Regions from separate parts of the Homo sapiens genome. Here region 2 is linked to region 1. The links come from fine-mapping of genetic effects on gene expression. Tissue or cell type: fibroblasts. Region 1 holds a variant in brackets; the other region holds the start of a gene. All regions are shown on one strand. Distances are between the middles of the regions.

What was found. PIP is the estimated chance that this variant, and not a neighbour inherited with it, causes the effect.
Region 2: KAT14 starts here. The variant in region 1 is fine-mapped to the expression of KAT14 in fibroblasts (GTEx, PIP 0.99). The same link has a PIP of 0.9 or more in esophagus muscle.

Annotation. Positions count from the first base shown.
Region 1 is chr20:18,151,282-18,166,827 of GRCh38, reverse strand. KAT14 (lysine acetyltransferase 14) reads right to left here. Exons shown (of 11, transcript NM_001392073.1): 5 at 7,563-7,744; 6 at 4,589-5,005; 7 at 3,883-4,451. Among named protein-coding and RNA genes, the nearest start is that of PET117, 21 kb to the right of the region's middle. The variant T/A (reference allele first, on the strand shown) is at 7,082.
Region 2 is chr20:18,127,843-18,143,388 of GRCh38, reverse strand. It overlaps KAT14 (lysine acetyltransferase 14), which reads right to left and starts at 5,526. Exons shown (of 11, transcript NM_001392073.1): 1 at 5,338-5,526; 2 at 470-1,181. The coding sequence starts at 728. It overlaps PET117 (PET117 cytochrome c oxidase chaperone), which reads right to left and starts at 5,526. Exons shown (of 2, transcript NM_001164811.2): 1 at 5,338-5,526; 2 at 220-1,181. The coding sequence starts at 5,433. The coding sequence ends at 1,032. RefSeq lists a silencer at 5,038-5,157.

The DNA.
Region 1 (15,546 bases):
TTTTCAGTATGTTGGTCTCAAATTTTACTTCCCATGCAGCTTTTCTCAGGAAGTCATTAAGAACAAGGGAATAAACCTATAACAAGGTAAAGATGGGCCACAGGAAACAGGAGATCAAATACAGAGGAGGGCAAAAGAATCTCCAGAGAGGGGAGATCCCAACACCCCTGCTGAGTTTCACAACAAAGGGTGAACAAGTGTGACCCAAGGGGCAGACATAGTGTAGAAAGTAAAAAGTTTCCTCTTCAAAGTTTTCCTTCTTGTTAAAGAATAAATCATAAGTGTTAGAAATAACAGTTTCTTTTAAAGACTAACTTTCTTCAAGTCTCCTTGCCTTGTGCTAATAACTCTTTGTTAAGCCCTATCCTCTGTAACCGTTGGACATGCTCACAGGCACGTTCCAGCCCACAGTCTACGCCCCTTCCTTATTTGGAAATGTTATTGCTTCCTTAAACCTTTTGTAAGCAACTTCTTTGTTCTTCCCTGCACTTACCTATTTAGGAAAGTTTTAGGCTATTAGCAAATCGGGTATCAGTTTAAGATTGTGAGGTCCCGCTCCAGCCAGTGGATGCAGGACACAGCAGTAAGGACGACCCAAGTGCGTAAGGGATAAATATGTCTGCTTTTCCTGTGTTCAAGTGTGCTCTCACCTTTGTTCCATCTGCAACTGAGCACCCTTTCTACAGAAAGAAAAGATGGCCTTGCTGAGATACCTTTTGTCTCTGTGCTGACTTTTCTTCGCAGCACCGATTATCTATTTCTAACAATTTTGGTATTTCTAACACATATTGAGGCTATCATCCTTAAGTCCTTGCTGCCACTGACCATCTTTTAAACCTATGGCGTCGTGGCCCAGAATCTTATCTACGCTCAGCTTGTCTTCACCATGTACAGGTGAGCCTCCTGTACACCACCCATGCCCACCCCAAAGACCAGCTGATGATGCTCACTCCACAAATAACTGCTTTGACCTTCTGCAAGCTGGAAGGAAGCTGTCAGCTCAGGCAGGAAATACAGAGGATCCCACTTCCTCTGCCCAGATTTCTGCCGCATCTCTGGTATACATCACAGCCCTGGCTGATGCATACGCTATGGTGAGCCTCATGTTTCCCAGGACTCCCTAGTGACCTTGGCCAGTGACTACCTCAGAAGGGGTTCATGGAAGCCGAAGCCAGAACATCACTGTAAGTATTAGTTTCCCAGGGCTGTAGGAACAAAGCACCACAAACTGGGTGGCTTAAAACAACAGGAATTTATTGTCTCACAGTTCTAGAGGCCAAATGTCAGAAGTCACAGTGTGGGCAGGGCTATGCTCTCTGGGGTACGCACTAGGGGAGAATTTGTTCTGTGCCCTTCTCTTAGCTCCTGGTGCTGCCGGCAATCCTTGGTGGTCTTGGCTAATTATATTTGCAAAGGGCCTATTTCCAGATAAGGCTGCATTCATAGGTACCAGGGTTGGGACTTCAACATATGCTTAAGGGGGACACAATTCAGTCCACAACAATGACCCAGAATGACTATTTAGCTTATCTTCTCCAGGAAACTTCATCTAATAGTGGCAATTTACTTACACAGCTAGATTTATGCTTGCTACTCAGTATTTTTTTAAACGAAAAGTATATCATTTAGAGACATACACATTTAAAAAGCAAAAGAATAATTAACACTGTAAGTCAAAGTGGCTTCCTCTGAGGGGAACAGAAAGTACACAGGAGACTTCTAAGGTGTTTACAACACTCTTTATCCAGGAGATGAATACATGGGCATTTATTTTACTAATATCTAAATTATACCATATTTCTATGCTGCCTTCTATCTGTATGACACATCTTACAATTTAAAAAATTAAGTATAGGCAGTAAACAGACAGGCCCACAAGAATAAGAACAAAGAACAGGTGAATATTGGCCAGGCGCAATGGCTCATGCCTGTAATCCCAGCACTTTGGGAGGCTGAGGCGATCACTCGAGCCCAGGAGTTTGAGATCAGTCTGGGCAAGATAGTAGGACCCTGTCTCTACTAAAAATAAAAATTAAAAAAAAAATTAGCTGAGTGTGGTAGTGTGTGCCTATAGTACCAGCTACTTGGGAAGCTGAGGTGGGAGAATTGCTTGAGCCTGAGAGTTCGGGGCTGCAATGAGCTGTGGTTGTGCCACTACATTCCAACCTGCGTGACAGAGAGAGACCATGTCTCAAAAAAAAAAAAAAAAAGAACAAGAACAAGTGAATAGATGACTAACAAAAGCATATGAACAAGCAGCAAATGACTTAACAGACCAAAGAAAGCCAATACCTAAGCCAGTGGTGAAGCTAAGCAGGGTGATTTACAAAACACAGCCTCAGGGAAGTGTAGTCACCTAAGGCATCAGGCTTAGAGCCTGGGGGGTATGACTATGGATTGTGAGGCTCTTTAAGAGGTTAAAGGCTCCAATTATACCCCTATAGTAATTATACTGCCCACATCTAGGAAATGATCTTTCCCTCCACGGGCAGAAGACTGGAGAGGCTCAAGAGGGAGATTCTGGACACAGGAAGCCAAGGGTGGGAGTACTGTACTGAAGACAGGGAGAGTCAGTTTACCTCCTAAACGATGGGCTCCTGGGCCCTCCCGACTTGGCTCCTGGTAGGCAGGCCAGTTAATACTGTGCTTCCCAGGAAAGATGGGAATTAGGAAAAAAAAGAAAAGAGGATCTATCTGGAGTAGGGATCTTGGTAAACTATAGCCCCCAGGCTAAATCCAGTCCACTGCCCATTTTAGTAGATAAAGTTTTACTGGAACACAGCCACACTCATTCACTACGGCTCTCCAATCACAACAGCAGAGTTGAAGAGTTCCGAATGAGATTTTGTGGCCGGCAAAGCCTAAAATAATTACTATCTGGCAGAAATACTTATTTCTTTACAGATAAAGTTTGCCAACTTTTAATCTACAGGGTCCAATATCCAAATAATGGGGAGTTCTAAAATGAGAGAACAGAAAAAATAGAAGATAGGAAATCAAGACTTTTCCATACTCAGGAAAGAAAGTTTCAAATTGAAAGGGCCCACACACCACATGTCCAGCACAAGGAAAGACATAAGCCCTACATACGGCACATCACTGAATAATACCAGAACACCAGCAATGAAGAGCAGATCCCACTAGCTTCCAGAGAAGAGAGAAAAACATGCAGACTCCAAACAGGCAATTCACAAAGAAACAACCAGGAAATTTAACCTCACCTGTAACCAAAGAAATATAAATAAAAAACAAGATTTCACTTTACAGCCAGCCAATTAGCAAAACTTAAAGGCTGGTTAGTGTCAAGTGCTAGCAAAGATAAAGGGAATAAGGCCTCTTGTTCCTCCCAGTGGGAGAGTATATACAGGTAGTTCTAAGTGGAATTAATTGTTCCCAGAAGCATCCACAAAATTTGGGTTCCACCGACCATCCTTTGAGCAACACTGATACCACACTGATCCCTTGGCTGCTATTTCTTCATGTTGTCCTTCGCAGATGTCTACACACCTTCAGATCCTCTGCAACACAGTGTCAGAGACACCGTCATGGCCTCAACAAATTTGTCAAAGCTACGACACAAACCATGCATATCTATCCTCAGAGAGAGAGAGACAAGAGAGACAGATGAAGAAAACTTATAGGTTATGTTTGAATGCCTAAAGGAAAAGAAAAACTCAGATGTATTCAGGTGTACTTACAATGAACAATTCTGAAAAATAAAGCCCAGCGATTTTTGTATTTTTTTCCCTTGCACTTTACTTTTCTCTTCCCAAATTACTCAGGATTTAAAAGGTCACAGCATAACCATGTCCAATGCCTAGTGCTGCCTGCCCCACCTCCACTCCTGCCCCCAAGGGCTTTACAGCAAGTGCTTGCATTCACCTGGTATCGGTCAAGGATTCTGAAGTCCTGACAGGTGGTTCTGTACGTGGCTTGTCCAGCTGGAAGTCTGGAAATTCCTCCTTCTTTGGCTCCATAAATCCCGTCAACTAACAAAAGAGCAGCATTAACAACTTGATCCAAGTCAAAAAGTGGTAATCCCCTATCCCTTTTCGCTTGTCTGACAATCAGTTTGCGTTTCAGTCTCCGAGCTTCCGGAGTCATGGCAACAGCACCGGGACAAGCTTCCAGCCTCTTGAGCAGCAGCTTTTCCTCGTAGATGCTCACGGGAGTATACCTGGGCTCTTTCGGCTTTGTGTCCTTCTCCAGCTGAGGCTTCCTCTTTTCTCTAGCCCTTGTTTGCAAAGATGTGTTTGAATCTGTGTCTTCACTGTCAATATCCATCCTGTCGGGTTTTTCCTCCTCACTCTCTACCTCCTGCTTTATCTGTTCAGGGCCTCTGACCTTCTTTCTGACCCCAACCACTGGCCCAGAAGCTACTGACCCAGCAGGGGGTGGGACGTACTCCATCCCTGGGTCTATGACTCCATCGCCTTCCATCTCATCGTCATCTGTGCAGAGTACAAAACAGTGTCATCAAGACATAGGAAGGAAGAAATGCAGAGCACACAGCCCACGGGGTGAAAACTTGTACATTTATACCATGGCCCATACCCAAAATAAAAGAGCAAAGCAAACAAACTCTTACCATGAAACAAGGCTTGTGGGGGCATCACATCTGGAATCAGATCTGCTTCTGAAAGCAAGCTAGGTGTGGCAGAATGAGAGGCAGGTGTACCAGGGGCAGAGAAATCCAGAGAAGGAGAAGGAGATGGGCTTGTCAGCGGGGTGCGGTCAGAGGAGCTCAAGGAGGAAAAGTCAATCACTTCGCCTTTTTCCAGAATCACATCTGGCCTGCGGCCTCGGCTTATGAATTTTACAGGGGTAGAAGATGTGCTCCTGTCAAGAAAGCCAGCGGCCTCCTTCTGGGCTCTTCTAATGTCTTTTGCTTCCTGAGTTCGAGACCTTTTCTCTTTTAATTCCATGGCAGATTCCACAGGATTCCGACTTGCTCGTTTTCTAAGTCCCTCAACAGTAATGATGGGATCTAAAGTTGGTTTTGAGGCTGCTAAGAAAGAATAAATACAGGCTGAGTATCCCTCATCTGAAATGCTTGGGCACAAGCATGTTTTGGATTTCAGATGTTTTCGGCTTTTGGAATATTTGCATTTTACTTATTGGCTGAGTATCCCAAACCCAGAAATACAAAATCCGAAATGCTGCAAATGAGCATTTCCTTTGAGCGTTATGTCAGTGCTGAAAAAGTTTCAGATTTTGGAGTGTTTTTGATTTTGGATTTTCAGATTTGGATTGCTCAACCCATATCTAAATTTTAAAATAACTACTCAACTTTAGTTTCTTTTGCTAATTTATTATTATGAGTAATATCATGTTCAATAAAGAGAAATGTTCAATGAATGCCCTAAACTAAAAAAGACTTAGATATCTCTTGAGAAAAAAGAAGTTATACTGCAAATTTAAACAAATAAATACTATCTTTCACCTACTGGAACTGGCAAACATTAAAAGTTTAGCCAGGCGTGGTGGTGCACGCCTCTTAATCCCAGAACTTTGGGAGGCTGAGGTGGGTGGATTTTGAGCCTGGGAGGTGGTGGCTGCAGTGAGCCAAAAAAAAAGTTTGATAAAGCTCAGTAAATGTATGGGGAAATGGGCATTTTCATGGGCATTTCAATGGGTACTTTTTTTTTTTTTTGAGACAGGGTCTTGCTCTGTCACCCAGGCTGGAATGTTAGTGGTGTGATCTCGGCTCACTGCAACCTCCGCCTCCCGGGTTCAAGCAATTCTCCTGCCTCAGCCTCCAGAGAAGCTGGGATTACAGGCATGCGCCATCACGCCCGGCTGATTTTTGTATTTTTGTACAGATGGGGTTTCATCATGTTGGCCAGGCTGGTCTCGAACTCCTGACCTCAGATGATCCACCTGTCTCGGCCTCCCAAAGTACTGGGATTACAGGCATGAGCCACCATGCCCGGCCTTATTACAGTTTCTTGGAGGATAATTTGGCAATCCTGATTAAAATTTTGAATGAATATGCCCTTTGATGTAGAAACTCCAGGAATTTATCACATTTTCACATGTACACAAATTTGTAGAATTGTAGCACTGTTTAAAGTAACAAAAGGTCAGGCATGATGGCTCATGCCTGTAATCCCAGCACTTTTGGAAGGAGAGGCTGGAGGATCACTTGAGCCCAACAGTTCAAGACCAGCCCAGGAAACATGGCGAGACCCTATCTCTATTACTTTTTAAAAATGTTTTAATTAAAAAATAAATAAATAAAATAGCAACAAAAAGGTAGAAACAACCAAAATGTCCATCAACAGGAGAATGGTTTAACAAATTATCACATAATTATATAATGGATGTAATGAAATAAAATAGGGTAAATCTACATGTACTGTCATGGAAAGATGTCCAAGACATACTGGTAAGTGTGGCAAAAATGGAAAACTCATAATAGTACGAGTCCATTTTACTTTTTTAAAAAACTAAGAAAATGCTTAAATCTGCAGAGATCTTTCTGAAAGTATTCACAAAAGACAACAGTGGTTACTCTGGGAAGTGAAATTGCAGGCCATAGGCAGGTGGGGGAACTTTCATACTTTACACCCTTAAGTACTATTTGATTTTCTTCCCAATCATATTTTTAAAATTTTAAAAGCTCATCAGCCTGATCCGGTGGCTCACCCTGTAATCCCAGCACTTTGTGAGGCCAAGGCAGGTGGATCGCCTGAGGTCAGGAGTTCGAGATCAGCCTGGCCAACATGGCAAAACCCCGTCTGTAATAAAAATACAAAAATATTAGCTGGGCATGGTGGCATGTTATTTGGGAGGCTGAGGCACGAGAATCATTTGAACCTAGGAGGCAGAGGTTGCAGTGAGCAAAGATTGCACCACTGCACTCCAGCCTGGGCAACAAAGCGAGACTGTACCTCAAATAAATAAACAAACAAGCAAACAAATAAATATAAAAATTTAAAAGCTCATTAAAAGCTTTTTAGATTATAAAACCAGATCAATATGTGATAGTAAGAAGTCACTGTTAACATCTTTTTAAATATGAAAATGGCATTATGGTCAGGCTGCAAAAAGGAAAGAATCCTGATCTCTTAGAGATACA[T/A]ACTAAGATATTTAGGAATGAAATGTTGATTCCTGGGATTTGTTTCTAAATAATCCAATTGTAAGAATGGGGAAGGTTGGGGAAAAGTACTGAGGATTTAGATAAAATGAGACTGTCAGGAGTTAATGTCAAAGTGAGGTGGAAGGTACATGGGAATTCATCATGTTATTTATTACGGGAATTTTAAAATATCTCTTCACCTTTGTGAGAAGTTTAAAAACAAAAACCAGATGGAAAACATTGAACCTTTCAGATACCCTGGGAAATTTATAAAACTGATAGCTTGATTAGGAAGTGATAAAATGTTTTTATGTGGCATTTATTTCTAGCACACACACAAGTGTCATCACAGAAGTGTTAAACAGAGTAGCTCCAGAGAGGCCTGCGAGCCATGCCCAGTGGAAGCAGGAGCGTCTCCTGGGCTCACACCTGCTTGGCTCTGGTCTGACTAGCAACTTTTGTACTGTTCTCACAACAGTACCTTTTATTTTCAAAGTAGAGGCAGACAACTTCTCTCCTTCAGGTTTCATCGTTGGGGGCTTGTTATGAACAAGTTTCCACCATCCTGGCTCTCCAAATTCCTGAGCACCTGAACGGAAGTACATGGGACTTCCCACGCTGAGGCAACCTGCCACGGTGCTCCACCAGGTAGACGTCTTTTTCCTAAAGAGTCCAAGAATTTAAAAATGATTGGCACTTTTGCTCATTATACAGAAAAGACAGTCTGTGTATACTGTGACTCCTGGCCTGCAACATGCAATGGCACCTCCAGCTACTGAAGGAGCAGAGCACGAGAGGCAGGAGAGAGGCTCTGGAGTTCGCCTGCTTCAAACCCTGGCGCTACCAACTTCTAGCAGCCTCGGTTTGTTCATCTGTAAAATCAGGATAATAGAACTTACCTCACAGGGTTGCTGTGAGGATTAAATGCAATAATTCAAACAAAGCACGTGAAATACTTCTCATCACAATCATCACGATTATGGAATTCTACAGGCTAATTTTAATTAAGTTGCTTTGTTATGTGAATTAAGCACAGCTCCCAAGAATAAAGCATACAAAAAGTGTAACTCCAAGGCTGGGCATTTTGTGATAGAAGTTAACTGGCTCCAGTAAATACCTCATTTTACCCGAGGAGTAGCACACATCTCTCAATCTGATCCTATCTGCCTCGATGCACTAGAGTGGTAACAAAACTATGTGGTATACTCCACAAACACAGAGAGCACCTACTGCACAACAAAATAACAAAACATGCAAAATGCCAACTATCCGGGTTCCCTAACGGAAATTCTTTCAAGGCGACTGTTCTATTTCCACCTTGAAAAGATACATCAATCCCCGGAAATCCTAGAAGACAGTCTTTCACAAGAAGACCAGTCTAACAGTTGGAAGGTATTGCTGGGAAGGCAAAGGAAAACCATTCTGAGGAACAGAGACGTAATATTAATAGAAAACTCAGAAAATAAACAAAACAAATAAGCTCAGCTATAGTAGGCATAAGCACTATCTGAGGCTGGGTGCGGTGGCTCACGCCTGTAATTCCAGCACTTTGGGAGGCCGAGGCGGGTGGATCACCTGAGGTCAGGAGTTCGAGACCAGTTTGGCTGACAGGGTGAAACCCCGTCTCTACTAAAAATACAAAATTAGCTGGGTGTGGTGGCACATGCCTGTAATCCCAGCTACTCGGGAGGGTGAGGCAGGAGAATCTTTGAACCCGAGAGGCGGAGGCTGCAGTGAGCCAAGACTGCACCATTGCACTCCAGCCCGGGCAACAAGAATGAAACTGGGTCTCAAAAAAAGCACTATCTGAGATGGAGAGAATGAAACCCCCAAGCTTTTGGTTCCAAAGTACCTCTCCTACATTCTTATCTTTTTCTAATCTTTCCAAATCCTCTCTAATAAATACAAAATGTAGCATAAACACATACAATAGAATATTATTCAGTCTTAAAAATAAAGGAAATCCTATCACATACTGCAATGTGGATAACCCTTGAGGACACTTATGCTAAGTGAAATAAGCCAGTCCCAAAAAGACAAATACTGTATGGTTCTACATATATGAAGTATTTAGAGTAGTCAAATTCATAGACACAGAAAGTAGAATGGTGACTGCCTAGAGCTGTGGGGAGGGGAGAATGGAGAGTTATTTAATAGGGATAGAGTTTCAGATCTGCAAGCTGAGAAGAGTTCTGGCCATCTGTGAATCTATATTCAAATACGTGAACATACTTAACACCACTGAACTGTACACTTGGAACTGGTTAAGATGGTAAATTTTCACTGTTTTTACTGCAATAAACAAACAGAAGTCTGGGCAACATAGTGAGACCTCATTTTTACAAAAAAATAAAAATAAAAAAATTAGCTGGGTGTGATGGCACGTGCCTGTGGTCCCAGCTACTTGGGAGGTTGAGGTGGGAGGATCACTTGTGCCTGGGAGGTAGTGGCTGCAGTGAGCCATTACTGTGCCATTGCACTCCAGCCTGGGTGACAGGGTGAAACCCTATCTCAAACAAACAAAAACAATAAAAAAGACTGACAAAGACTCAAAAGATTTTAAAAACCAATGTGTTATTTACTGTGTCGAAAACGGGTGCGTACTTGTACATTGACAGTGGGACTATAAATGGGCATATACTTTCTGGAGGTTACTTTCATAATGTACAGCAAAATTGTGTGTATCCTCTGACCTCGCAAATCTACTTCTAATCACAAAAACACAAAGGATATATATACAAGAATATGCCCCACAAGGCTAACTTAAACACAGAAAAACTGGAAATAACATAAATGTTTATAAAATTATCGGCCAGTGTTACAGATTTCATCGTATCCTCCCAAAAGATGTTGGAAGTCCCAGTACTTGTGAATGTGACCTTATGTGCAAACAGTGATCATGAGGTCATTAAGTTGAACACTAATCCAATATGACTGGTGTCCTTACACAAAGGGGAAACTTGGACACAGAGACAGACGTGTAGAGAGGGAAGATGCATGAAGACACAGGGAGAACGTCATCTACAAGCCAAGGAAGGCCTGTGGCTAACAGAAGCTAGGGGAGAGGCATAAAATACTCTCTCCCTCACAGCCTTCAAAAGGAACCAATCCTATCAACACCTGGATTTCAGATTTCCAGCCTCTAGAACTAGAATACATTTCTGTTGTTTAAGCCATCCAGTTTGTGTTACAGCATCATTAGCAAACTAATATAGCCAGCTAAATCACAGCACAACACATAATGAGACATTTGTATGGAATGGAATAAATTTGTTGCCAGGACATATACAAACACAGTATTTATGAATGGCCTCAATAGTTTTCCCCCAAAATTATTATTGTGGTAAAATATACATAACATTTACTATCTGAACAATTTTTAACAGTATAGTTCAGTGGTATTAAGTACATTTATATGGTACAATCACCACCACCATCCACTTTCAGAACACTTTTCACAGGGCAAAACCGAAACTCTATATCCGTTAAACAACTCCCAATTCCACCCTCCCCGCCAAGTGCTGACAACCACCATTCTACGTTCTGTATCTGTGATTTTCACTACCCTAAGTATCTCAGATAAGTGGAATCACACAGTGTTTGTTTTCTTGTGATTGGTTTGTTTCACACAGCATAATGTCCTCAAGGTTCATCTACACTGCAGCATGTGCCAGAATGTCCTTCCTTTTTAAGACTGAATGATATCCACTGTATGTATATGCCACATTTTGCTTATCCATTCATCTACTGATGGACACTTTGGTTGCTTCCACATCTCAGTTATTGTGAATAATGCTGCTAAAAACATGGATATACAAGTATCTCTGAGACCCTGCTTTCAGTCCTTTTGAGTATATACCCAGAAGTGAAATTGCCAGATCATATGATCATTATATTTTTAACTATTTGAGGAAACACCACACCATTTTCCACAACGATTGTACAATTTTACATTCCCACCAACACTGCAAAAGGGTTCCCATTTCTCCACATTCTCGCCCACAGTTGTTGTTTTGTTTCTTTGATAATTGTCATCCTAAGAGGCATGAGGTGGTATCGTGTTATAGATTTGATTTGCATTTCCCTAATGATTAGTGATGCTGAGCATCTTTTGATGTGCTTATTGGCCATTTTAATATCTTTGAAGAAGTGTCTATTAAATGCCTTTACCCATTTTTGCAATGAGGGGAGCTATAACAACAATGGCTGCCATCTCTTTTCACCTCTATGATTAGAAGCAGCAATCAGTGATCAGAGCACAAATACCCAGTATTTGGAAAACAGGCTTATTTTTGCCCACCCTGGATGCTACAAGCTGTGTGTAAGCCACTCCAGGAACACACACACAGCTTTCTTCCTAGTGGCTGGAGAAGGGGGATGGGTAGCACCAAAAAAACCCCCACCTTTTTACATTTAAACTTTAATAACATATTAAAGGCATAAAAGAAAAACCTGTAAACATCTGAAAGAAAATTCAGAACTTCATTACACTGTATAGCATTCTCTTAGATCTTGTGACAAATGAGAAATGGTTACAATTTTTAAGAATTTAAAGTATGTCCTGGCCAGGTGCAGTGGTTCACGCCTATAATCTCAGCATTTTGGGAGGCCAGGCGGGTGGATCACCTGAGGTCAGGAGTTCAAGACCAGCCTGACCAATAAGGTGAAACCCTGTCCCTACGAAAAATACAAAAATTAGTCGTGCATGGTGGGGTGTGCTAACCTAAATAATTTTATGTACCATTGTAGAAACAAGTTAAAAAGTATATGAAAACTTAGTTATTACTGAATAATTGCCTAGTATTTGTTCATTTAATCTGCTTTTACAGTCCTGGCCTTGAATTCTTCCAGAAGGTATAGTTTTGATTAGTGAAGAATAGCTTGAATATTTTCTTCTACTACCATATTTTACTGATTTTAAGATACGTAATTTTGCAAATTTTGACATCTCTGACAGCTAGATACATCTTATAGTTACTGATATGTCATAATTTAATTGGTAGTTAGCTCTTATTTGTACACAAAATGGTGTATCTTAAAGTTAATGGATCTTAGAATTGATGAAATATGATAGTACACATTCATAGTATCTACACTTCAATCAACTTTACGAGGATTCTGGGAAGGTGGCAGATAGGAAGCATTTGCCTTCCTGCCTGGACAGCAGTTGCACTGGCAGAATCTGACTGATGGAACTATTTTGGGACTCTGGAGTCTAATAAAGGCTTGTGGTTTCCAAGGGAAGGCATAGACAGTAGACTGCGGTTAATACTGGTCAATTTTAGTTCTTAATGCAGTAGCAGCTACTCCGGAGGCTGAGACCGGAGAATTGCTTGAACCTGGGAGGCGGAGGTTGCAGTGAGCCGAGATCACGCCGCTGCACTCCAGCCTGGACGACAGAGCAGGACTCCGTCTCAAAAAAATAAGTAAGTAAGTAAATAAATAAAGTACGTCCTATGGATAGCAGAATGAAAATCTTTAGTAGCTATGAAAAAAGTGTACCTTAAATATAAATGCTCTTTACAGACAGCTTCTCTGGGGTACGGTAATCTTGTTAACATTCATACACAGAAATGTCTGAGCAAGTGGTAACTACCCAGGGGTAGTGGTTTCAGGGGACTTCTCCAATCACTGATATTTCAAGTGGAGTTCCCAAAGTGAAGAGCAGCACTGTAGCATGAAACCGGGTGGCAAGAATCATAAAGTGATTTCTAATTCTCTTTTGCTTCTTCTGGTTAGATCAAAAGAAAGTTTACTGCTTTAAATTCTCATTAACACTTGTAGCAGCCTCCCTTTTTGACTGGAAAAGAAAGCCATGGCTTGCCATTATATGCCATGGGATCCAGCTACAATTTAACAGCATTGTTTTATTTTTATTGTTACATTCTACTTATGACAATTTATATAGGTTTCCCACTTACCATGGTGATGTTAAGTTTCTTTTTAAAATTAATGTATTTTTCAGGTGACTTGATTTAAATAGGAAGATCAAATAAATAATAATTCCGGTGATATACCAATATGGCCAACACACTAAATAAACTACACAGAAACTGGAGAGTAATTAATGCCTTTCATTGGCATGTTAAAAAGAAATAAGGCTCAGCTGATTCCTCTCAGAACATGCTCTAGAAATGAACAAATGAAGCATTTAAACAACTTCTGTTAAAATCCAGCAATATTTTTAAAAACAGGCAATCTAAATCTAATTTTTTCCAGGAGATAACCCACTAAATAGGACAGCACTCGAAGATCATGAAAACATTCCAAGATCCAATTTTATCAGTTTTTTCCCTTTCTTATCCCTTATAAATGGGGTACATTAAGGTCCATAAATAGTGCTAAATCATTAAACTAAACAACAGATTTCTTTTCCTTATGAGAAAGAACCAGTTATAGTGTCGATTCTTTTCTTAGCACCAATAAATAGCTCAAGAACTAAAATAACCCCTTTTGCAAAAATGTAGGGAGTCTATTCCATTTTCTCACAGCAGCCTGCAGGTCACCCTCCTTCTGACTACCCTCCCGTACTCTCAGTAACATGAGCAAAGCTGTGATTCCTCAGCTTCTGAAGAAACAGAGGCTGCAGTGAACCCCAAGTGAGGAAAGGCATGAACTCCCTGCCCTGACCTGAAGTGATCAAAGACTTTGTCATGTCTAAACTAACCTCATTATGTAAGATTCATGAATCTCACACAGGACTTCAGACAGCAACTAACAATCAGAATCTCAAACAAAAATTCACCAGTGTGGTAGCAAACTCACAAGTACCCAAGAGCAATAAAAGTCTTGATAGATCCACGTGGACATTTAGTGAAAATATATGGTCGCAAGGTCTGTGCATCGGCATCCCCGAGTCTAATGCACCAAAGCAGCCACTGGGGAGAGCACACAGCAGCAAACTCAAAGCGCAATGATAAACACAGTGACCAATGAACAAGCCACATGCAGATGTGCCCAGACTTTGCTAAGCACTATGAAAAATAGTTAAAAATAAAAAAGAGTGTCTACTTTACAGAGTTAAAAACAAATACTAGTAATACAAAACTCTATTAACTAAGGGCAACCTAAATAGATGCAGTCAGTAACTGCCATTATTTTTCCTGTCTTGTCCTCCTAGAAGGCACTGCTCTGTTTTGGTTCTTTTTTTGGTTGGTTGTTTGTTTGTTTGAGATGGAGTCTCGCTGAGTCACCCAGGCTGGAGTGAAGTGGCCCCATCTCAGCTCACTGTAACCTCCGCCTCCCAGGTTCAAGCGATTCTCCTGCTTCAGCCTCCCGAGTAGCTGGGATTACGGGCACCCGCCACCAAGCCCAGCTAATTTCTGTATTTTTAGTAGAGATGGGGTTTCACCATGTTGGCCAGGCTGGTCTCGAACTCCAGACCTCAGGTGATCTGCTCGCCTCGGCCTCCCAAAATGCTGGGATTACAGGCCTGAGCTACCGGGCCCAGCCTGGTTGGTGTTTTCTAAGAGATGGGGGTCTCACTATACTGTCCAGGCTGGCTTCAAACTCCTGGGCTCGAGTGATCCTCCAACCTTGGTCTCCTGAGTAGCTGGGACAACAGGCATGCCCCACCACACACAGCTTAAAAGAATATAATAACCCTATCTCCTCAAGTGAAATATTGACTTATCCAACTCTTGAACAGTCTCATGTAATACAACTCTTATTTTTTAACATTCTAAGAATTTCTTCAAAAAACGTCATGTTCAGTTGAAACAAACATCTTTTTTTTTTTTTTTTTGAGATGGAGTCTCACTCTGTTGCCCAGGCTGGAGTGCAATGGCGCAATCTTGGCTCACTGCAACCTCCACCTCCTGGGTTCAAGCAATTCTCCTGCCTCAGCCTCCTCAGTAGCTGGGATTATAGTTGCCTGCCACCACGCCCAGCTAATTTTTGTATTTTAGTAGAGATGGGGTTTCACCATGTTGGCGAGGCTGGTCTTGAACTCCTGACCTCAGGTGATCCACCCACCTCGGCCTCCCAAAGTGCTGGGATTACAGGCATGAGCCACTGCGCCCAGCCAAGTTTTTTTTTTAATCTTAAAAAAGTAAAAATATTCTCTGGAATTCAAAAATTTTCGTAATTGCCACAAGTAAACACTCTAAATCTCTAACAAGGTAAGGAACGGTGATTCACACCCACCATAATCCCAGCACTTTGGAAGGCTAAGGCAGGAGAGCTGTTTGAGCCCAGGAGTTCAAAACCAGCCTGAGACAACACGAGACCCCTGTCTCTACAAAAATATAAGGCCAGGCGCAGTGGCTCACGCCTGTAATCCAAGCACTTTGGGAAGCCGAGGCAGACAGATCACTTGTGGTCAGGAGTTCAAGACCAGCCTGGCCAACATGGTGAAACCCCGTCTCTACTAAAAATACAAAAATTAGCTGGGCATAGTGGCAGGTGCCTGTAATCCCAGCTACTCAGGAGGCTAAGGCAGGAGAATCGCTTGAACCCGGGAGGTG
Region 2 (15,546 bases), 23 kb after region 1:
AAAAAAGACTGGTCCTAGAAAAAGGGCAAAAAACACCTTCAATCTGCTAATTCTAACCTCTTTTCAGTATACAATAGCAGGAGTTCTCCACGTAAGTTAAATATTAACAAAGTAATTTTTATAAACTTGAACATGAATTCAACACTGGGACTGGAATTTGGCCCTAAATCTCTGTGACCTTGTTAGAAAAATATGGCTAATTCTTTAAGTAACACAGGATTTCCAATTTTCTCAATTTTATTGAGTTACCACCAAAAGTGTTAATTTAACAATGTGATAGAGGTTGACAGTACGTTTCATTAGTACAAACATGCCTATGTTTTATATAAATTTATAGCTGATCAACTAGAGAATAAATATAATTATCCTTTTATTTAGGTCTCTTTTACATTCACGTTTCTTTCACAGGTTGGAAAAACAAACCTTCACACAGGAATTGACAAATCAAAGGAATTGAGAAGCTCCTTACTGGCTGGTATCCATTTTTGGCACTTGTCACAGAAGTAGGACAGCTGCTCCTCCATCCAAGACACGTCTCCTTCATCACTGTTGAGGGAATCCCCACTCTGGTCGTGCGATAAGTCCACTGATGCCTGATCCTCGGATTCGACGATCAGGAGCGTCTCTCCCTCCACTTCACCTTCCTCCAGTCCTTCTGAGGTCGATGTTCTCGTGGCTTCGTCATCATGCCGACTGATCAGACTACTCAGGTGGATGCTACTATCCATCCCTTCCTTCTCACAAGCTCGGCAGTGCTTCTCAGTAACAACCCTAAGCACTGGACAGTGACCCTAATGGGGCTTCTACCAGGATCACCCAGACAGACTCTTCCAAAAAGTGTCTGCCCACACTCCTTTATTCAGATATAAGGGACCCTGAAAGCAGTAACTTATATGACCCACTGTCCTTTATTTGATCAAGTTTAAAAGGACAGTGACCAAAAAAAAAGATGAAGATACTACTAAGCTACTCTCCATCAACACACACACACAAACTCGTGTTGTCTGTCCAACAGATATTTCACATTCAAGTCATGATTTTTGAGATCCTTTTGCCAATAACATCTTCTCTCTTTCTGCTTCAAGTTGCTCAGTCAAAATAATCTGTTCTCCCAAAAGACGAATGTTTTCTTTTTTCCGAATTTGCCTCTCAATGTCTCTGATAACTCCGTCACGAAGCCTCTAAAAACGTAAGAAACAGATTTCAGTAACATCCCGAACAGGTGGTCCCCATCCTTGTGCCATTCAAATCCAAATAACAGTGTTACCAAAATATACTTAAAACTTTCAGATTCCAAATACCCAGTTACTATTTTAATTTTCTGTACAAATGTAAAATGTAATAAACGATCAAATAAATTTGGTAGTGTGCTAAATGTTATTACTGAAATGATTTCTTATCATATTTTAAGAAATTCCTGAACATTTAGTACAGAAAATTTAATGGGAAATAACAGAAAAAAAAAACTGGCACTATGTTAAATTTTTTTTTATTTATTTTTTGAGACAAGAGTCTCGCTCTGTCGCCCAGGCTGGAGTGCAGTGGCTGCACTCCGCAGCTCACCGCAACCTCCACCTCCTGGGTTCAAGTGATTCTCCGGCCTCAGCCTCCCGAGTAGCTGAGACTACAGGCGTGCATCACCATGCCCAGCTAATTTTTGTATTTTTAGTAGAGACGGGGTTTCACCACGTCAGCCAAGCTGGTCTCGAACTCCTGATCTCAAGTAATCCACCTGCCTCAGCCTCCCAAAGTGCCGGATTACAGGCGTGAGCCACTGCACCCGGCCAATGTTAAATTTTTAAAGTTTAATTGATATGTAATGCTTTAAAAACTTGGCGAGTTACTACAGTAACACTCTAAACTACTCTTCTGTTAGCACTTATCCTAGCTGAACAATAAACACCAACAGAAAAAATGCAGATTACTAAAATCTCAACTTGGCTTCTAGCATGTAAAGTTAACAATGTAAAAATCATGCAGAATTATTAATTAATTATATAACAGAGAAAGAAGAAAAAGAAGGATGCTACTACCAGCGGAAAAAATAAATGCTCATCAATGGTAGTTACCTTAGTAAGCACTAAAAAACCACAGCACTTCAGAACGTGGACCTGGCACCCAAGAAGAGACTTTTAAAAACATCAGTCATTACTAATAACTAACATTTTATAGTTTATTGCTCACAAAATACTCTAAAGGTTTTAGGCCAGGCGTGGTGGCTCACTCCTGTAATCCCAGCACTCCTGTAATCTTAGGCCAAGGCAGGCAGACTGCTTGAGCTCAGAAGTTCTAGACCAGCCTGGGCAACATGGCAAAATCCCATCTCTAGCAAAAATAAAAATAAAAAAAAAAAAAAAAAAAAAAATTGCAGGGAGTGGTGGTGTGTGCCTGTGTTCCCAGCTACTCCGGAGGCTGAGGTGATAGGATCACCTCAGCCTGGGAGGCACAGGCTGCAGTGAGCTAAGATTGTGCCACTTCACTCCCACCTGGGTGACAGAACAAGCCCCATCTCAAAATAAATAAATAGGGTTTTTTTTGTTTTGTTTTATTGGTTTTTTTTTTTTTTTTTTGAGAAGGAGTCTCGTTCTGTCACCCAGGCTGGAGATCTTGGCTCCATGGCACGATCTTAGCTCACTGCAATCTCCACCTTCTGAGTTAAAGCGATTCTTGTGCCTCAGCCTCCCCAGTAGCTGAGATTACAGGCGTGCGCCACCAGGCCTGGCTAATTTTTTTGTATTTTTAGTAGAGACGGGGTTTCACCACGTTGGCCAGGCTGGTCTCGAACTCCTGACCTCAAATGATCTGCCTGCCTCAGCCTCCCAAAGTGCTGGGATTACAGGCATGAGCTACCGTGCCTGGCCAATAAATGGTTTTTAATAGTGGCTATATAGAGTAGAATTAATGGGAGTGGGGCCCAGGGCCTGCGTATGTTTGTGGGGTTTTTTCCAAATTATTTTACCTATTTTTAAAAACTCACCTAATATAATACCTACTTGCTGGACCTCCTCCAGGCCTACAGCTTCATTATGAGGGATTTGAAGGAGTCCCGGGATTGATATAACTCAACTGAAACACAACTGTCTTGAACCATGCACCCTTGGCAAGATCACCACTGAGACAAAAACGGAGGTGCTTATTCCACTCCCCCAACTGCAGGTCTTCCTGTCCTGTGCTTCTTACACCATGACACACCGATACCCACCCTCCCAAGCCCACACCATTCACCAGAATCATTCCTTCCACACCTGCCTCCCAGATCCTACCCTTCCTTCTCAGAGATGTCACGTGTGCTTATGATCTGGCTCTCCATCCCATCATTTGCTATCTTCCTCTAGGTTTCAAGGTCTATGCTGATTGCCTCACACATCCTTCCTGTGACCCTCACTGAACTACCTTTCTAACAACTTTCCTTACTAATCACTAAAGACCTCTTTATTCTTCCAACCCTAACACCTAGAACTCTGGCTCCTCATGTAGCACTGCTTAATTTTTGCTAGGTTACTGTGAGGATTACAGATGATATACATAAAGTGCTTAATACACTGCCTGGTATGTGGTAGACGGTCAGGAATCAATATTCATTATTTAATTTCTTGCTTCCTTGAACCTTCCGACACATCCACTGTGCTAATCATTTGTCCTAGTCTTTCCCACTGCTATTAATACAATGTAAGCCCCTAATGAAGAACCGGACATAAAAGGAAAAAAAATAAACACACACACACACACACACACACACACACACACACACACACGTTATTTTGGTTCTTCAGCTCTAACTTCCAAATAACCACTTTTCCACTCTGTAACACAATGGTGCTTAGTCCTGTGTTAAAATTCTCTGGGTTACTTTTAAAACATTGTTGAACCAGGTCCCCATCCCCAGGAGATTCTGGTTTAAATGGTCTGGGGTGGGGACCAAGCCTTAGTCACATTGTAAAAACTTTCCGGGAACATTTGATGTTCAGTTAGGGTCCAAAGCCAAGCTCTAATCCATCCCTACCCAAACCCTTCAAACATCACTTCACTGACGTCAGATCATCTGTCATACTAAATTTTACTCCATCTCAAGTTTTCCCAGGATCAACATCTTTTACTTTTCCTTGTAAGAGGCGGAAGTCTTCTGCCTCTATTCCAAAAGCCAGCCCCTTAGGAGCACATTTTAATCCCAAATCTCTGATCTCTCCTGTGCCCTTTCATTGTTAAGTCATCTCAACCCCTCGTCAAAATTCTTGTACCATCACATGCTTCCTCTCTTCTAATTTCCACAGTCTGTGAACACCAAGAACAAAGACCTCATCCACTTCATCTCTGTATATCAAGCACATAGCACAGTCCAAAGGTCTGGGTAGGCAAATCAAGAAAAGACTGTTTACTCTTGATTCATCCAGTCCATTATTTTCACCCTTGGTGAACTAGGTTCAACCCCAATCACTGCCAAGTTGTTTTCTGAAAATTCACCAATGACCCTGTTCTCAGCAAGGTCGTGAATCACTGATAGACTCTGGAAGAGTGGAGTTTCCTTATCTTTGTATTCCCAAGGTGCTTAGTGAGGTAGCTTCCACACAGTAATCACCCATTAAAGGTCTGTCAACTTGAATAAGAAAGAAAATATGAACTGAGAGGACAGAATAGTCACTGCTGATCAGCAGGTCACGGATATTTCCTGAAATAAAAGTACCAAAAAAAAAAATCTGGAGACTGTTATCTCTATCGTTCCCAGATTCTAGTTTCCATAGCAAACTGTTCATTTAAACGAGAAGTGCAAACATCTCACCAAATTATCTTGGTCAAAGGCATGGAGAGTGAGTACGGGGAAGGGGGGCTCCCTTACCATGGGATAAAATCAATAGCACGTAAAACACATTAGGCTTTAACCCCAACCTTGGGCCAGGAGGGAGGCTGGTAGCTTGCAGAATGCACCCCAAGAAACTCCTTCCCCACCTTCTATTTTCTAGCGGCCCAAGTGAGATGTGGAAAGGTCCGCACCCTGCGGGCCGGCTGTGACTTGAAAACAGAGCCACTGGGCACCCCAAAAGCTTGCGTGCCGTGCCTGTGCGGAGCAAGGCCCCTTCAGCGCGGAGCTCCAAAGGCGCTAAGCCGGGCAGCCGGGTCGTCCTGAATCTGCGGGCTGCACACGCCCGCCGGGAGCTGCAGCGCCCGGAGCCCAGCAGAGCGGCCGCCGGCCGCAGCCGCAAACGCGTGGGGTGCAGGGCCGCGCCACCGCGGGGGAAAGACACGAAGAGGAGCTGAGGAACCGAGCGGGCAGAGACCACGAGAGGCCCCAGGTCGACGCCGCGCGCGCGGGCCCGGAAGAGACGGTCACGTGACACCGACCTGCTGGTCCCACTGCTGCTTCACATGTACGCCGGCCACTGTGGCCGCCGTCAGCAGCACCGAGAGGCCCAGCACCACCTTCGAGCTCCTAGACATCCCCACGCTGGCGGCCGCGGCCTCTCTCTCCCGCCCGCCCGAGGCGCAGAGGCCGCCGCAGAGTGCGCACCGCCGCCTGTACTGCCCAGGCTCGACCCCTCGAGCGCAGAGCCCCAGCCGTCGCGTGCGCCGCTCGCCGCTGCCAGGCGTGAGCAATCGAGAGCCGAGCATAGAGCGGCGCCCAGGCTCTACGAACTCTTGGCTTCACTAGGGGCCTCCTGCACACCCCGCAGGCGACAGCGTTAGACCACCCCCGATTCAAATTCTAGGAGTCCCGGCCCAAACTGGCCCCGGCACCTTACCAGGGTGGAGGGTGGGGGTTCCATGCCCCTCAGTCAGTTCAGTACCAACCTCACCCCGGGCGGGGTCTGGATACCGTGCTGACCCCTCTCCCACAGACGTCCCTTCTGAGCCCCTGACTGATCCAGAAGCTTCGCCCAATACCGGCTTCGCCTAAACGCAGCCCCCTCATTGCTCCTTTGGCGGGGCAGGCGCCACCAGGAGACCGCCTCGTTAGGCAGCTTCAGAGGCGCGGGGTTCCCATCCGTGGAGTTTTTGCCTGAGGACCCATTATTAAACGCTGTAGTCGCGGTCACCTGGTTTCACCTTGACGCTGTGGGGCGACTGGTCAGGCTCGGATTATTATTATTATTATTATTATAATTTTGATACAGAGTCTCTGTCTATCGCCCAGGCTGGAGTGCAGTGGCGCGATCTCGGCTCACTGCAACCTTACCGGATTCAAGCGATTCTCCTGCCTCAGCCTCCCGAGAGGATTACAGGCGTGAGCCACCGCGCCTGGCCCCATGTAATCTTTGTGATCACTTTTACACCCAAGTTTCCGCGCCAGTAATACAAGGGAAATAAATGATATAAAGAAGTCTTGCGTTGGGAATAGTTAAGCAATTGTGCAAGACGCATTTTCACTTCTTCCTCGGGTAAAAAAGGCAAGGCCTCCCAGAAACTTTTAAGTATCTGATAGAGCAACCAGTGAAAACGTGTTCATCATTCAATCATTCTTTCCCACTAGAATTCACAGAGAACGAGCTTCTTCCGGTGGACACGGCTATAGGCAGTATTGATTAAGCCTCACCAGGGAGTTTTACAACATTCATTACTGTTCATAGTGCTTTGCTATTCCAGTCTCTTATGTGAGCGTAAATGGCATAAGGGGACTATTGCTCTTAAAGGTATCTTTAAAGATACCTTTTCCAAATGTCATTTTGTCCACAGCATTTTTTGCAGCCTAGAGAGAATGTACCACTGAATTGGAAAATGGAGTTCTTGCTGTAATGAACTTTGAGAAGAAATTCAGTTCAGGGTGTATTTGCATATTTCTCTTTAAAAATTATATTAGACTTCTTTTTATTCGTGGTATATCCTAGATATTTTCCCCTGTAAATCAGTGAGCCTTCAACAGAGCTGTATGTCCTTAGAGTGTACATCAGGGAATTAGATCAATCGCCTTTCATTTTATTGTGACTAATTTTTCAACTTGTTTTCTTGAAATGTACTCTTTTCTTTATTTTCAGGATACTAGAAGCAAAAAAAAAAGTATTCTACTTTTAAGAAATCATTTATTATTAACTGTGTCAAATAAAAAAGTGGGTTGGGGGACTGAGGGAGGTCTTGCAAAAAAAAAAAAGTATGTTTATCTGTTTAAATATTTATAAGCCTAAGCAGTATATTTTCCGTGATTATTGTCGCATAAATTACTGATTTGTGAGAGTGACTGCATATCATCAAACTGAGAAGCAACTATTTTTTTCTTTTTCTTTTCTTTTCTTCTTTTTAATTGAGACAGGGTCTCACTCCGTCGCCCAGGCTGGAGTGCTGTGGGGTGATCTCACTGCAACCTTTGCCTCCCAGATTCAAGCGATTCTTGTATCTCAGCCTCTGGAGTAGTTGGGGTTACAGGCCTGAGCCACCAGGCTGCACTAATTTTTGTATTTTTAGTAGAGATGGGGTTTCACCATGTTGGCTAGGCTGATCTAGAACTCTAGTACTGGGTGCTGGTACTGGGTGTTTGTGAAAATTGGTCCAGTGGCACACCAAGGCTGTGTGGTCACACATACATGCATGATACACTTCTATACAAAATCTTACATAACTATACGAACAGAAAAAAAATGGCTCTTTTTTGTTTCTTTTATTGTCTTTATTTCCTTTTGATTTTTTATTGTGTGTTTTTTTCTTTTTTTTCCCATTGGTTCATAGCCGATGGCTTTACATTTTATCATCACTTCTTGTATCAAATAGCTTTTTGGCTGGGAACGGTGGTTCATGCCTGTATTCCAGGCACTTTGGGAGGCCAAGGCAGGTGGATCACTTGAGGTCAGGAGTTCGAGAACAGCCTGGCCAATATGGTGAAACCCCGTCTCTACTGAAAATACAAAAATTCGCCAAATGTGGCAGCGCATGCCTGTAATCCCAGCTACTTGGGAGGCTGAGGCAGGAGAATTGCTTGAACCCGAGAGGCAGAGGTTGCAGTGAGCCACTGCACTCCAGCCTCGGTGACAGAGTGAGACTTCAACTCAAAAAAAAAAAAAAAAAAGTTTTTTCTCCATGGTAACTATCAAAAATTAAAGAGATGATCATTTAAAAAGATTTTGATCAGCCAGGCGTGGTGGCTCACACCTTTAATCCTAGCACTTTGGGAGGCCAAGGAGGGTGGATCACTTGAGGTCAGGGATTCGAGACCAGCCTGGCCAACATGATGAAACCCCGTCTCTACTAAAAATACAAAAATTAGCCAGGTGTGGTGGTGGGTGCCTGTAATCCCAGCTACTTGGGAGACTGAGGCAAGAGAATCACTTGAGCCCGGGAGGTGGAGGTTGCAGTGAGCCGAGATCAAACCACTGCACTCCAGCCTGGGTGACAGAGTGAGACTCCATCTCAAAAAAAAAAAAAAAAAAAAAAAATCTTGATCAAGAACTATGTGCAGGAGCAATGATCAGGAACTATTTTTAACACAAAACTTGATATTTAAAAGAGACTCCAAGAAGAATGTTATCAGGAAATTTTACCCAAAGTTGATATTTAAATCTACCCCAAGATTTGCTTTTATTTTTCTTCTCATAATTATATGTCATTTATTTTTTTGTTTTTCTTTTTCTTTTTTATAAGAGTACCATATAAAGGAAATGTAAATAATTATTATCCATGAAGCTCCTTTTAGAATTATCCAAGCTCACGCAAGTTGATCCCAGTGAGTTGTACAGATATCCTTATTTTTTATGTTTACCAAGGTGGGACGAAGCTTAGGAAGCATGGCTGATTTAATACAATTTGCTTGTAAGGCCAGAACATCTGAACCTTGTGTATCTGGCTATATTCTAGTGTCTCGGCATCCTAAGATCACATCAGTTCCTGCCCCTCTCAGCTTTGGATTGACTTAGGTGTGCCCAGAATGGCCACTGCTTTCCTGGAGAGGACAGTGGGTGCCTTGCCCTGCCATTGGCTGGCCTTCAGAGTGAACTTACCTCCAAAGACAAAAATAGGAAGCTGACCACCTTAAAAACCGCTCAGTGGCTCCCCATGCCTACAGGATAAAGTCCCATACTCTTTAGAACAGCATACTACCCTGTCCTTCCCTTCAGAATCCTCTAAGCAAGAGGCAGCATCAAAAAAGAAGTACAGTTGGAAGTCAGGGCTTGGAGAAGAATCAACAAATGAAAACTAAGGGGAGGGAATGCAGTCATTTTCCTGTGTTTGAACAACATGGTCACACAATCTTTGTTCCACCTTCACTCACACAAGGGTGGGGACTTGAAAAAAATGCCTTCCTCACTGAGTGTGTAATTTGGCTTATGTTATTTGGGCTTGAATCATGGCCAGGTCCTGGCAGCTATCCTGGGAGAGCTGGGTTTCGGGTCACTTCTGTCTTAAAGAATAGTAAATCACTAGTACCCTAGCAGGAGGTATCAGTAGGAGGCACGGGTTTAAACTGGGCTTGATGGTGGGCATGAATGCAATAGGTCAAGGCAGAGGCTTCAGGCAATGATCAGAAGCTTGTCATCATTGGGGCTGAGAGAGAAGGAGGAGGTGGGAAGGAGGAGGTTTGTTTGGGAAGAAGGTGGAGGGTGTCAGCTGAACTGGCACCAGTGACTGATAAATTTATCAGTCTCAGCACTAAATGATTACAGAAACATCACACCACATGGCACCGCATAAAGCACCATTATGACTATTTTAAATGCAAGCAAGAAGGCTTGCCTTGTGTATGGCCCTGTAGTGGGCTCTATAGGCAGACAAGGCCACGAAATCCCACCTTCTTCAGGCTGAGGCTCTGAAGTCAGCACATAAGGAAAAAGTCAAAAACAGTTAAAACTACCCTTGAAAACATTTTAGGAAGGTGACATGTTGAAGAAAATAGATATTTTCTCAGGAACTCCAAAACAGCCAGTTTTTCTTCTGGTACTGGAATTAATCACCATGAATTCAATGCAGTATCTATATAAGTAATCTGAAATTCTGCACAGGTTTGTCTCTTCTCTCCCATTTAGTAACTGATTCAATCATTTGTTTCTATCAGTGTGGACTGGTGGGTATTTATTTTATACTTTGGGTTATAATCCAATATTACTTTATTTTGTTGCTCAGATGGCTCCCGCTTTGGCCGTTGGGAGATCTTTCAGCTCCTCTGCTTCTCTGACGGACCCTCATCAATGTGTGTTTTTCTTGTTTAGCACTTGTCTATTTTCTGACACTGCACAATATTCTGAGCTAATCTTGTATATTTCCTGCCCAAGTCTCAGAATCTGCCATTTCTCCAAGAATCCAAGGTTCTTTTTATTGTAGAATAATATTGGAATCCAAGATATAGGTCCTGGCATGCTTATTGCTACTGGGGCTTTGTTTCTTTTGGGCCCTCTCAGCTGACAAAGCACATAAATATATGTGTGTATACTTATCTGTGTATGTTACATATCTGCAAATATTTCTATATGTAATCACCTGAATCTATATTGACTAAAATGTGAGATATTGCTGATGTCTGCAACTCTAGTCCATTACCAGATGGATTATTCTAACCTCCTTTTTTTATTGGTAAATTCCTACTCCATCAGTGAGAATTCAGGCTCCCATTTTCCACCATCCACTTGCGCAATTGTTTGATTCCAGTGTACATGTATAGCAGTTTCAGAATTGTTTACCTCATAATTATATGTCATTTTTTTTTTGTGGGAAACAACTTTACCTACTAGAGTACCATGCTTTTTTGCAGTTCCTATTGCTTTTGGCTTTATAGACCTCATTTACTCCAAAGTTACCAAATCAGCACCTTTGCCCTCCACCCCTTCAGTGATATCGTTTCATATGTTTGCAATACAGTTAGATGCTCTTGTCATGGTTTGCACTTTTTCCTAGGATCTTCCTGAGAGTATTTTTTTAACTCCTTTCTTTCTTTCCTTTCTTTCCTTTCCTTCCTTCTTTTCTTTTCTTTCTTTTTTGAGACAGGATCTCACTCATCCAGGCTGGAGTGCAGTGGCACGATCTTGGCTCACTGCAACTTCTGCCTCCTGGATTCAAGTGATTATCCCACCTCAACCTCCCGAGTAGCTGGAAGTGCAGGTGCATGCCACCAAGCCCGGCTAATTTTTGTATTTTTAGCAGATAGAGGGTTTCACCATGTTGGCCAGGCTGGTCTTGAACTCCTGACCTCAAGTGATCCACCTGCCTCAGCCTCCCAAAGTGCATGGATTACATGTGCGAACCACCGTGCCCGGCCTTTTTCACTCCTTTCCATAAACATGATGGAATCAGCATATATCCTCTCTTCATACCGCCCAACTTAGGGATTAGATTGTTTTTAAGCTTTACCTTTATGCCTTTAAATATATTTAGACCTCTGTGCTTGATTTACCATCTTTAAATAATATATTCTGGTCACCAGCTCTAAACATTCAGGAAACCAGCTGTATTAGTTTGTTTTGACATTGCTATAAAGAACTACCTGAGCCTGGGTAGTTTATAAAGAAAAGAGGTTTAACTGACTTACAGTTCCACAGGCTGTACAGGAAGCATGCTTGGGGAGGCCTCAGGAAACTTACAATCATGGCAGGAGGTGAAGGAGAAGCAAGTACATCTTCACGTGGCTGGCAGCAGAGGGAGAGAGAGAGAGAGAAAGGGGAGGTGTTACACACTTTCAAACAACCAGATCTTGTGAGAACTCTACTATGAGGCAGCACTTGGAGGATGGTGCTAAACCATTAGAAACCACCCCCATGATCAAATTACCCCTCATGAGGCTCCACCTCCAACAATGGGGACTACAATTCAACATGATATTTGGGTGGGGACACAGAGCCAAACTATATCACCAGCATACTTGACCTATTTCCTATCTTCTGCTCTTTCTCATTCAACTTTTGTTGGTTATATCACTCCTTCACTGTCAGAGTTTATAACATATATATTTTGCTCTTTTTTTTTTTTTCTGAGACATGGTCTCACTCTGTCACCCAGGCTGGAGTGCAGTGGCTCAATCTCAACTTACTGCAACCTCCATCTCCCAGATTCAAGTGATTCTCCTGCCTCAGCCTCCCAAGTAGCTGGGATTACAGGCTTGTCACCATGCCCAGCTAATTTTTGTATTTTTAGTAGAGATGGGCTTTCTCCATTTTGGCCAGGCTGGTCTCGAACTCCTGACCTCATGTGATCCACCTGCCTCAGCCTCCCAAAGTGCTGGGATTACAGGCGTGAGCCACCACGCCTGGCCTACATTTTGTTCTTTAACCATAATTGCCATGCTTGTTTTCATCTTAGTTGCATCTTTAAATGGATTTGATGGTCATCACCAGTCCTTTCTGTGTCTTTTCTCCATCTACCCTCTATTAGAATCTTTTAAAAAGTGTTGTAGAAACTATATTTCCTGAATTCTTGCACATTAAAAAAACATGTTTGTGTTGTCTTTGTCCCTGAAGTACAGTTCAGCTGAGTAAAAATTTCTTGGGTCACACTTTCTTTGCATGAAGACTATATAGACTTTACCCATCTGTCCTCAAATATCAAATATAGCTGTGGCAACTTGGAGGCCGGTCTAATTTTCTCCTTTTAGTTAATTACTTTGCATAGTTGCTTAAAGCATACTTTCTTTATCTTTGAAGTCCAATAACTTTACAAGAATATATTTTTGAGTCTATTTTCCTTGGACACGAGGTACCCATTCAATTTTTAGATTCATACTTTTAACTCTGGAAAATTTTTTAAATTACATCTGTAAATACATTTTCTGTTCTATTCAAATTTCTCCTTCAGGGACATGAATTATGTGCCTATTGGATCTCCTGTGCCTGCCTGTCACATTTATTACTTTCTGTCTAATCCTTTTTAAACTCTGGTCATTTTAATTTCATTTGCCTTCCTATCTCTTTTCTAATCGATGGGTCTCTCTTACTTCAATGGTATCTAGTCTACTCTGGAAAAGTACACTTGGAAACAATTTTTTAAATGCTTTTTTGAAATTCTACTTATTTACCCAATGCTTTTAACTCATAGTTCATCTTTTTAAAGTTGTGTAAAATACACATAGCATAAAATTTACTAGGTAAACCACGTTTAAGCGTACAACTCAGGGGCATTAAGTACACCTGCACTGTTGTGCAACCAGCATCACTATTCATCTCCATAACTTTTTCATCTATCCAAACAGAAACTGTGTCCATTAAAACGTAACTCCCTATTTCCCCTCCCTCTAGCCCCTGGTAAGCGCTATTCTACTTTCTGCCTCTGTGAATTTGCCTATGTTAGATGCCTCGTATAAGTGGAATTATGCAATATTTGTCCTTTTGTGTGTGACTTATTTCACTTAGCAATAATGCCTTTGAGGTTCATTTATGTTGTAGCACATGTCAGAACTTCCTTCCTCTTTAAGGCTTAATAATATTCCATTGTATGTATATACAACATTTTGTTCATCCATTCATCTGCTGATGGACATTTGAGATGTTTCTACCTTTTGGCAATTGTGAATAATGCTGCTGTGAATGTTGGTGTGCCAGATTCTGATCCTTGCTTTCAATTTTTTCAGATATACAGACAATTCCAGAGTTATGATGGCTTGACTTATGATTTTTCCACTTTACAATGGTGCGGAAGTGATAGACATTCAGTATGCTTCTCAACTTATGATGGGGTTGTGTCCAGATAAATCCATCATAAGTTGAAAATACCAAAAGTCAAAAACTCTGGCCAGGCATGGTGGCTCATGCCTATAATTCTAACACTTTGGGAGGCTGAGGCAGGCAGATCACCTGAGGTCAGGAGTTCGAGACCAGCCTGGCCAACATGGTGAAACCCCGTCTCTATTAAAAATACAAAAAGTAGCCAGGCATGATGGAGCGTGCCTGTAATCCCAGCTACCCGGGAGGCTGAGGTAGGAGAATCCCTGGAACCTGGGAGGTGGAGGTTGCAGTGAGCTGAGATCGCACCACTGCACTTCAGCCTGGGTGACTCCATCTCAGAAAGACAAAACAAATTCCGGGCGCAGTGGCTCATGCCTGCAATCCCAGAACTTTGGGAGCCAGAGGCGGGCAGATCACTTGAGGTCAGGGGTTTGAGACCAGCCTGGCCAACATGGTGAAGCCCTGTCTCTATTAAAAATACAAAAATTAGCCGGGCATGGTGGCACACAGTTGTAATTCCAGCTACTTAGGAGCCTGAGGCAGGAGAATCGCTTGAACCCGGGAGGTGGAGGTTACAGTGAGCCCAGATAACACCACTGCACTCCAGCCTGGGCGACAGAGTGAGACTCTGTCTCAAAAGAAAAAAAAAGTCAAAAACTCATTTTCAATATATGATATTGTCAACTTTTTTTCCCCTATGGGTTCATTGGGATGTAAACCCGGGAGTGGAATTGCTAGATCATAAGGAAATTCCATATCTAACTTTTTAAGGAACTGCCCTCCTGTTTTCCACAGAGGGTGTATCATTTTACATTCCCACCAGCAAGGCACAAGGGTTCTAATTTCTAGATATCCTTGCTGATATGGTTTAGGTCTGTGTCCCTGCCCAAATCTCATGTCTAATTGTAATCCCCAGTGTTGGAGGTGGGGCTTGGTGGGAGGTGACTGGATTATTGGGGTGGAGTTCTCATCAATGGCTCAGCACCATCCCCACTTGGTACTGTATAGTGAGTAAGTTCTCATGAGATCTGGTTGTTTAAAAGTGTGTAGCACCACCCCACTTCCTCTCTTCCTCCTGCTCCAGCCATGAAAGACATGCTTGCTTCCCCTTCACCTTCTGTCATGATTGTGAGTTTCCTGAGGCCTCCCCAGAAGCAGATGCTGCTATGCTTCCTGTACAGCCCGCAGAACCATGAGTCAATTAAACCTCTTTTCTTCATAAATTACCCAGTCTCAGGTATTTATTTATAGCAGTGCAAGAACAGACTAATACACTTGCCAACGCTATTTTCTTTTTCTTTCATCTTCTTGTTTGTCTAATAGTAGTTATCCCAACAAGTGTGAAATGGTATCACATTGAGGTTTTTATTTGCATTTCCCTAATGGTTAGTGGATATTGAACATCTTTTCATTTGCTTATTGGCTATTCATATATCTTAGTTACAGAAAGTTTGAGTCTTTTGCTTTTTGTTTTGAGGCGGAGTTTTGTTGTTGTTGCCCAGGCTGGAGTGCAATGGCACAATCTTGGCTCACTGCAACCTCCGTCTCCTGGGGTTCAAGTGATTCTCCTGCCTCAGCCTCCCAAGTAGCTGGGATTACAGGCATGTGCCACCACACCCAGCTAATTTTGTGTTTTTAGTAGAGACGGGGTTTCTCCATGTTGGTCAGGCTGGTCTCAAACTCCCGACCTCAGGTGATCTGCCCACCTCGGCCTCCCAAAGTCCTGGGATTACAGGTGTGAGCCACCACACCCAGCCTTTTGTTTTTTAAATTGAATTGCTTGATTTTTTGTTGTTAAGTTGTAGGCATTCTTTATATATTCTGGATATTAACCTCTTATCAGACATATGACTTGCAAATATTTTTTCCCATACCATAGGTTGCATTTTCACTCTACTGATAGAATCCTTATGTATACAAAAGGTTTTAATTTTGATAAAGTCCAATTTATTTGTTTTTTCCTTTTATTGTCTGTGCTTTTGGTGTC